2 linked regions of the Homo sapiens genome follow. The protein of the gene in region 2 interacts with the protein of the main gene of each other region in a pairwise test. Each region holds a gene or a part of one and is shown on either strand. Other genes may lie near its edges.

Region 1 (4,106 bases), on a different chromosome or scaffold from region 2:
GGGTAGAGAGGAAGGAGCCCCTAAATATCAGCAGGGGTGTAAATCACTAGGGGTATATGACATACATGTGCATAGAAAAAGGACAAGGAATAACCCCTAAATATCAGTAGGGGAGATTGTATTTTCTAGGAGGGCCACAAGATCCCCTGTCCCCTGTGCTCTTCATACAGTATGACCATGATGGAGAGGTGTGATCTAAGTTCCCTCTCCATGCATTTGTGACTATGGAGGCAATACAACTTCTGCCTGGTCCTCCTGGGATGCTCACGTTGGAAACTCAGACACTGGTGTGAGAAAGCACATGGAAACGCCACACATGGGTGAACTGGCGCTAACCCTGCTGACCTCAACTGACAACCAGCATCAATCACCAGACACATGAGTGAGGAAGCTCCTCTGTGACCTCTGACTGAGACCCTGTGAGAGACCCCAAGCATGAACAGCCTAGCTTAGCCTAGCCAACGACCAGGATCAGAAATTAAAAATGAATGTTGTTGTTTAAAACAACAGAGTTTGAGGGTGATTTGTTATATAGCAATAGCTATCCAGGAAAAAAGTATTTAACTTCTGTATGGTGAGATCATGGATATTAATAATACTTTTCCATATTTTCCAATATTTCTATAATGACCATTTATTTCTCTTATAATCAGTAACAAAAGAAGGGAAAACTTGGTCTAAACACGAATTTAGGGACTTAAACTAGACTTGGAGAAAAGCTTTCTATGCAAGATTTATTAGATACTGGAAAGGATGAGGAAGACAAATTTAAGTCAATATGATGGAAAGAGTGGTGGATTTGGAATGAGGAAACTTAGAAATGAATCTGTTTTCTGGGTGACCTTGCGCAAGCCTTTGCTAAAATTTGGTTTTCTATTTTGAAAAACGCAGCTGGCTGTTTAAGGAAGATAATATCCACCAGGGCGCCTGGCCCAGAAAAGGCGCTCTGTAAGTGGTAGGTGGATCCTGTCTAATCAACGCCAATTATAACCAGGCATCTGCAAGCTTTGTGGAGGGCGCATCTTTCACTGCTACCAGAGCCTACAGTTCTAATAATGAAAATTGCCTGGAAAAGAACCACAACTCTTAAAAAAAAAAAAAAAGTCCAAAATCACAAAGTGGCTTTTGCAGCGGTCCTTGCCTGTGACGCCGGGCCATGGCTGGAGCTCCTTGCTCCGTACCTCTCAGGAGCCTCCATCCTGTACCAATGGCCAGAGAGCCGGGGGGTGACAGACAGGGGGGCCGGCAGCCGAGCCAGGCAGGACGCTGCGCGCCGCGTTACTGGAGCCGGTGTCCCGGCAACCCCGGAACGCGCCTCTGTGGGAGAAGCAGGCGGCTGCGGTGTCCCTTTTGCCCTAGGCTCTCGGTTCTCAGGCCTCGGCGTGCGGCGTGCGTTCGGCAGTTCAGTTGCCAGTTGGTTCGTTGGTCCGTGGAGGCCTCTGAGCACAGACCCGGGCCTCCCCTGGGGAAGGGGGTGGGAAGACCCCGAGGTGGAAAAGAAGGAGCACCTTGAGCTGGATGGGGGCTGCAGCGAGCCTGGTTCGGGCTGGGGGCGGACTCGCTGGGGCTCCCAGGGCTTCCAAACCACGAAACGCCCAGGTGGAGGGAGTAAGGCTCCCGTTTAGAGGCCAGTCCTGCCCTCCTGACTTTCGGTGGCTTGTGGAATTTGTTTGTTTTGACTGATACCTTTCTTACGAGGGACTTTCTTTGTCTCTGGGTTGCTTCTAATATTTAAAATCATCATGGGCACAGATGAGTCCATCCATGCTCACTGGAAACAGTCCACGGGGCTGCCGTCTCCCCTCCATCTCAAGCACGACCTGCGGCAGACAGCTGGAGAAGGTTCCAGAAAAAAGGGACTCTGGCATGACCGAGGTGGAGAGGACCTACAGTTGAGTTCTAAGAAATCCAGGCTGTGGAGTTGGTGGCCACATCCAAGTATACTACACCCGGGGGCGGGGGCAGGTGGGGGGCACCATTTGAAGTTTAGAAGGAAGCTAGTTTGGGGGCATGTAAAAAGAGCTGCTTGAATAGTAGCTTATGTTTGTGCTAACCCAAGATTTGATTAGGCAGAGAGCACCACCAAAGCAGAGAGTCTCATAAATTACCTCACTGGATCTCACAGCAGTGGAGAAGTATATTACCTATGAGTAAAGGGAGCCAGAGATTTGACCTGCCCAGTGCTTGGGTTAATAAAAGGTGAGCCTGGGATTTGACATGAGCCTGGGATTTGACATGAGTCTGCCATACTTTCGAGCCTGTGTCCTTTCATCTTTCCTTTGCTCAGATATTAGTAGGTTTGTGTCATTGTTTATTGGATGGGACAGTTCAGGTGAGAATTATGAACACTCTAAAAATTAAATAATGGCTGGTAGCTCCATAATTGGTTAAGGCCGAGGAGGGTATTTGGGGGCACGTTTGCCTTTGGAGAACAGTGTCATGGCGCTGAACAGCCACAGTCTCCCAGAAAAGCTCAGAGTGCGCCTGCGCTCAAGTTCTCATTTACCTGTTATGGGTGAGTGGCCTGAGTGCTGCAAAAAGGGGTTGTGAAATATCCAGACTTTGCGGGATCAGATCTTAGCTTTCTCCCTGGTCTTCTGTATTCTGGGTGTGTGATCTCCTCATTCTCCTTCACAGTGGGGAGAAAGGAGGGAGGTACAACTCATTCCACCCAGCTATTAATATAAGCTAGGACCGTAGAGAAGGAGGAGCTGGAGGAGTTAGAGCTATTAATTGTCCAAGTGTGTCTGCAACAGCAAGGAGAAAAGGGTTCTGGGATTCTAACTTTAAGCTCCAGACCTTCCTGCAGTTTCCAGTTTGGGGTAAAGGAAGAAGCTGCTGTTTTAAGGATGTCCTAGGGAGGATCCATGTTTTCGAGTTAGGGGTAGCAGAAGGGTACCAGGTCCCAGACCACATTAATGAAAGACCCATGGTGTCCTTTCCTGCTGTGTAGGTGAGTCTATTCAGGAGAATACATCTGAGTTTAGCTTAACATGGAGTCTATGGATTTCAGCAAGGAAGGGGCTCCACAAACCAATTGAAGATACGTGTGTGTGTGTGTGTGTGTGTGTGTGTGTGTGCATTTTTCCATCAGAGAACCGATTGCTTTCATTACTGCTCATGGGGGAGAGGATAGAATCAAAAAACGGGTTAAAAACTTCTGTCCTTGATCCTTAGGCCCCTTGTGAAGCAGATAAGCAGGGGTGGGAAATAGTGTTTGGTTAAATGAGTATCCATGTTAAACAAACATGGCTTGATGTATTATTTTTCTCCCTGCCAGACAGAGCTATTATGACAATCAGCTGAGATGACAAACATATGAAAGTGCTTTGGTTATGTAAGGTGTTATTCCTGCCTAAAAAAATGGAAATAATTATCCTGAATTCCACAGATGGCAATAAAGAAACAGACTTTCTTCCAAATTCTCTTTTTTCCCTTGAATTCCTTTCTGGTTACCAGAACCTTCTCTTGGCCTTTAATTACATCATTTCTTCTTAATTTTGCAGTGTTTTAGAAACTTGTTAGAATTTTCTGACTTCTGGCTTACTTGACATTTATTGCGCTTGAATAACAATTTTCATGATAAATGGTGAAACTTTCAAGCAGGGTGTATCTCCTTAGTGTGTTTGTCTCCCCACAGCCTTCTGAGCTAGATGGGGGAGAGGGCAGCCACTGGGAGCTGGGCGTGGAGAAGTAATTGACTTGCTCAGAGTAGCTGGATGGTACTCTATGCAGTGGGAGCATCAGTATTAGTATTAGCGTCAGTATTAGTAAGTGTTCAGGCTTGCAATTCCAGCTTCTCTTCCAGCTAATCTTCTTTTACCAGGGGAGGGGCGGGGAGGCATCTTGAGAACATGTTTAAGTGTCTCCAGCTCAAGTTTGAGGTTGAGTTACTCTCAGGAAGATGCCGTAGTCAGCTTGATCTAGAGAGTGTGCTGTTTGCCAGTTTAGCAAGAGATTGCTCTTCCCATCCTTGTCCATCAGACAAGCTTTCCCCATTATAGTGGCCACAGGCCACTTTCTAGAGTGCTGCTGCCACAAAACTTTTCAAGCAAGCAAGGAAGTGTGCTAAAGTTTTAGGTGTGTTTCACTGCTCGCTGCTTAGG
Region 2 (3,078 bases):
CTTGCACCGGTTTTCAAAGGGAATGCTTCCAGTTTTTGCCCACTCAGTATGATATTGGCTGTGGGTTTGTCATAAATAGCTCCTATTATTTTGAGATACATTCCATCAATACCTAGTTTATTGAGAGTTTTTAGCATGAAGGGCTGTTGAGTTTTGTCGAAGGCCTTTTCTGCATGTATTGAGATAATCATGTGGTTTTTGTCGTTGGTTCTGTTTATGTGATGGATTACGTCTATTGATTTGCATATGTTGAACCAGCCTTGCATCCCAGGGATGAAGCCCACTTGATCGTGGTGGATAAGCTTTTAGATGTGCTGCTGGATTCGGCTTGCCAGTATTTTATTGAGGATTTTTGCATCAATGTTCATCAGGATATTGGCCTAAAATTCTCTTTTTTTGTTGTGTCTCTGCCAGGCTTTGGTATCAGGATGATGCTGGCCTCATAAAATGAGTTAGGGAGGATTACCTCTTTTTCTGTTCCTTGGAATAGTTTCAGAAGGAATGGTACCAGCTCCTCTTTGTACTTCTCATAGAATTCGGCTGTGAGTCCTTCTGGTCCTGGACTTTTTTTGGTTGGTAGGCTATTAATTATTGCCCCAATTTCAAAGTCTGTTACTGGTCTATTCAGAGATTCGACTTCTTCCTGGTTTAGTCTTGGGAGGGTGTATGTGTCCAGGAATTTATCCATTTCTTCTACATTTTCTAGTTTATTTGCATAGAGGTATTTATAGTATTCTCTGATGGTAGTTTGTATTTCTGTGGGATCAGTGGTGATATCCCCTTTATCATTTTTTATTGCATCTGTTTGATTCTTCTCTCTTTTCTTCTTTGTTAGTCTTGCTAAGAGTCTATCTATTTTGTTGACCTTTTCAAAAAACCAGCTCCTGGATTCACTGATTTTTTTGAAGGGTTTTTTGTGTCTCTATCTCCATCAGTTCTGCTCTGATCTTAGTTATTTCTTGCCTTCTTCTAGCTTTTGAATTTATTTCCTCTTACTCCTCTAGTTCTTTAAACTGTGATGTTAGGATGTCGATTTTAGATCTTTCCTGCTTTTTCTTGTGGGCATTTAGTGCTATAAATTTCCCTCTACACATTGCTTTAAACGTGTCCCAAAGATTCTGGTATGTCGTGTCTTTGTTCTCATTGGTTTCAAAGAACATCTTTATTTCTGCCTTCATTTCATTATTTACCCAGTAGTCATTCAGGAGCAGGTTGTTCAGTTTCCATGTAGTTGTGTGGTTTTGAGTAAGTTTCTTAATCCTGAGTTCTAATTTGATTGCACTGTGATCTGAGAGACAGTTTGTTGTGATTTCTGTTCTTTTGCATTTGCTGAGGAGTGTTTTACTTCCAATTATGTGGTCAATTTTAGAATCAGTGCGATGTGTTGCTGAGAAGAATGTACATTCTGTTGATTTGGGGTGGAGAGTTCTGTAGATGTCTATTAGGTCTGCTTGGTCCAAAGCTGAGTTCAAGTCCTGGATATCCTTGTTACTTTTCTGTCTTGTTGATCTGTCTAATATTGACAGTGGGGTGTTAAAGTCTCCCATTATTATTGTGTGGGAGTCTAAGTCTCTTTGTAGGTCTCTAAGAGCTTGCTTTATGAATCTGGGGGCTCCTGTATTGGGTGCATATATATTTAGGATAGTTAGCTCTTCTTGTTGAATTGATCCCTTTACCATTAAGTAATGGCCTTCTTTGTCTCTTTTGATCCTTGTTGGTTATCAGAGACTAGGATTGCAACCCCTGCTGTTTTTTGCTTTCCATTTGCTTGTTAGATCTTCCTCCAAATGTTTATTTTGAGCCTATTTGTGTCTTTGCATGTGAGATGGGTCTCCTGAATACAGCACACCGATGGGTCTTGACTGTCCAATTTGCCAGTCTGTATCTTTTAATTGGGGCATTTAGCCCATTTATATTTAAGGTTAATATTGTTATGTGTGAATTTGATCCTGTCATTATGATGCTAGCTGGTTATTTTGCCCATTAGTTGATGCAGTTTCCTCATAGCATCAATGATCTTTACAATTTGGCATATTTTTGCAGTGGCAGGTACCAATTATTCCTTTCCATGTTTAGTGCTTCCTTCAGGAGTTCTTGTAAGGCAGGCCTGGTGATGACAAGGCTCCCAGCATTTGCTTGTCTGTAAAGGATTTTATTTCTCCTTCATTTATGAAGCTTAGTTTGGCTGGATATGAAATTCTGGGTTGAAAATTCTTTTCTTTAAGAATGTTGATTATTGGCCCCCACTGTCTCCTGGCTTGTAGGGTTTCTGCTGAGAGATCCACTGTTATTTTGATGGGCTTCCCTTTGTGGGTAATCCGACCTTTCTCTCTGGCTGCCTTTAACATTTTTTCCTCCATTTCAACCTTGGTGAATCTGACGATTATGTGCCTTGGGGTTGCTCTTCTGGAGGAATATCCTTGTGGTGTTCTCTGTATTTCCTGAATTTGAATCAACAAATATTTTTATCATCAGAGTCCAGAAGAAGAAGAGAAGGGAAAGAGGATAGGAAATTTATTTAATGAAATACTAGCTGAAAAACTTCCCAAATCTGTTGAGAGATATAGACATCCAGATCCAGGAAGTTCAAAGGTCTCCAAATGTATTCAACCCAAAAGATCCTTCCCAATTTGTCAAAAGTTAAAGACAAAGAATTATAATAACAGCAAAAGAAAAGCATCAAGTCACATACAAGGAAGTCCACATTAGACTAGCAGTAGATTTATCTGCAGAAACCTTAAGGCCAGAAGGGAAGGGAATGATGTATGTAAAGTGCTGAAAGAAAAAAAAAATGCCAACCAGAAATACTATATGCAGCAAAGCTATCCTTCAGGAATGAGGGAGAAATAAAGCCTTTCCCAGACAGACAAAAGCTGAACTCCAGCTTCTTAGCCTTCTTTTCTCTTTTCACCAGAGCAACCCAACCCCTAGACTTCCTGTATTAAGAATATAAGGTGGCCAGGCATGGTGGCTCATGCCTATGATTCCAGCACTCTGGGAGGCCCAGGTGGCAGGATCGCTTGAGCCCAGGAGTTCAAGACCAGCCTGAGCAACATAGCAAGATGCCATCTCTAAAAA

Evidence for each region. Proteins that work in one complex are often made in the same cells at the same time.
Region 1: the proteins of GPHN (region 2) and SPATS1 interact in a two-hybrid assay, tested with the Homo sapiens proteins (one large-scale study listed by BioGRID and IntAct).

The regions. Positions count from the first base shown.
Region 1 is NC_000006.12:44,341,344-44,345,449, forward strand, and holds the start of SPATS1 (spermatogenesis-associated serine-rich protein 1), read left to right. Parts: upstream 1-1,306; 5' UTR 1,307-1,425; intron 1,426-1,752; coding exon 1,753-1,891; intron 1,892-4,106.
Region 2 is NC_000014.9:67,176,147-67,179,224, forward strand, and holds part of GPHN (gephyrin), read left to right. Parts: intron 1-3,078. UniProt on the Homo sapiens protein: Microtubule-associated protein involved in membrane protein-cytoskeleton interactions. It is thought to anchor the inhibitory glycine receptor (GLYR) to subsynaptic microtubules.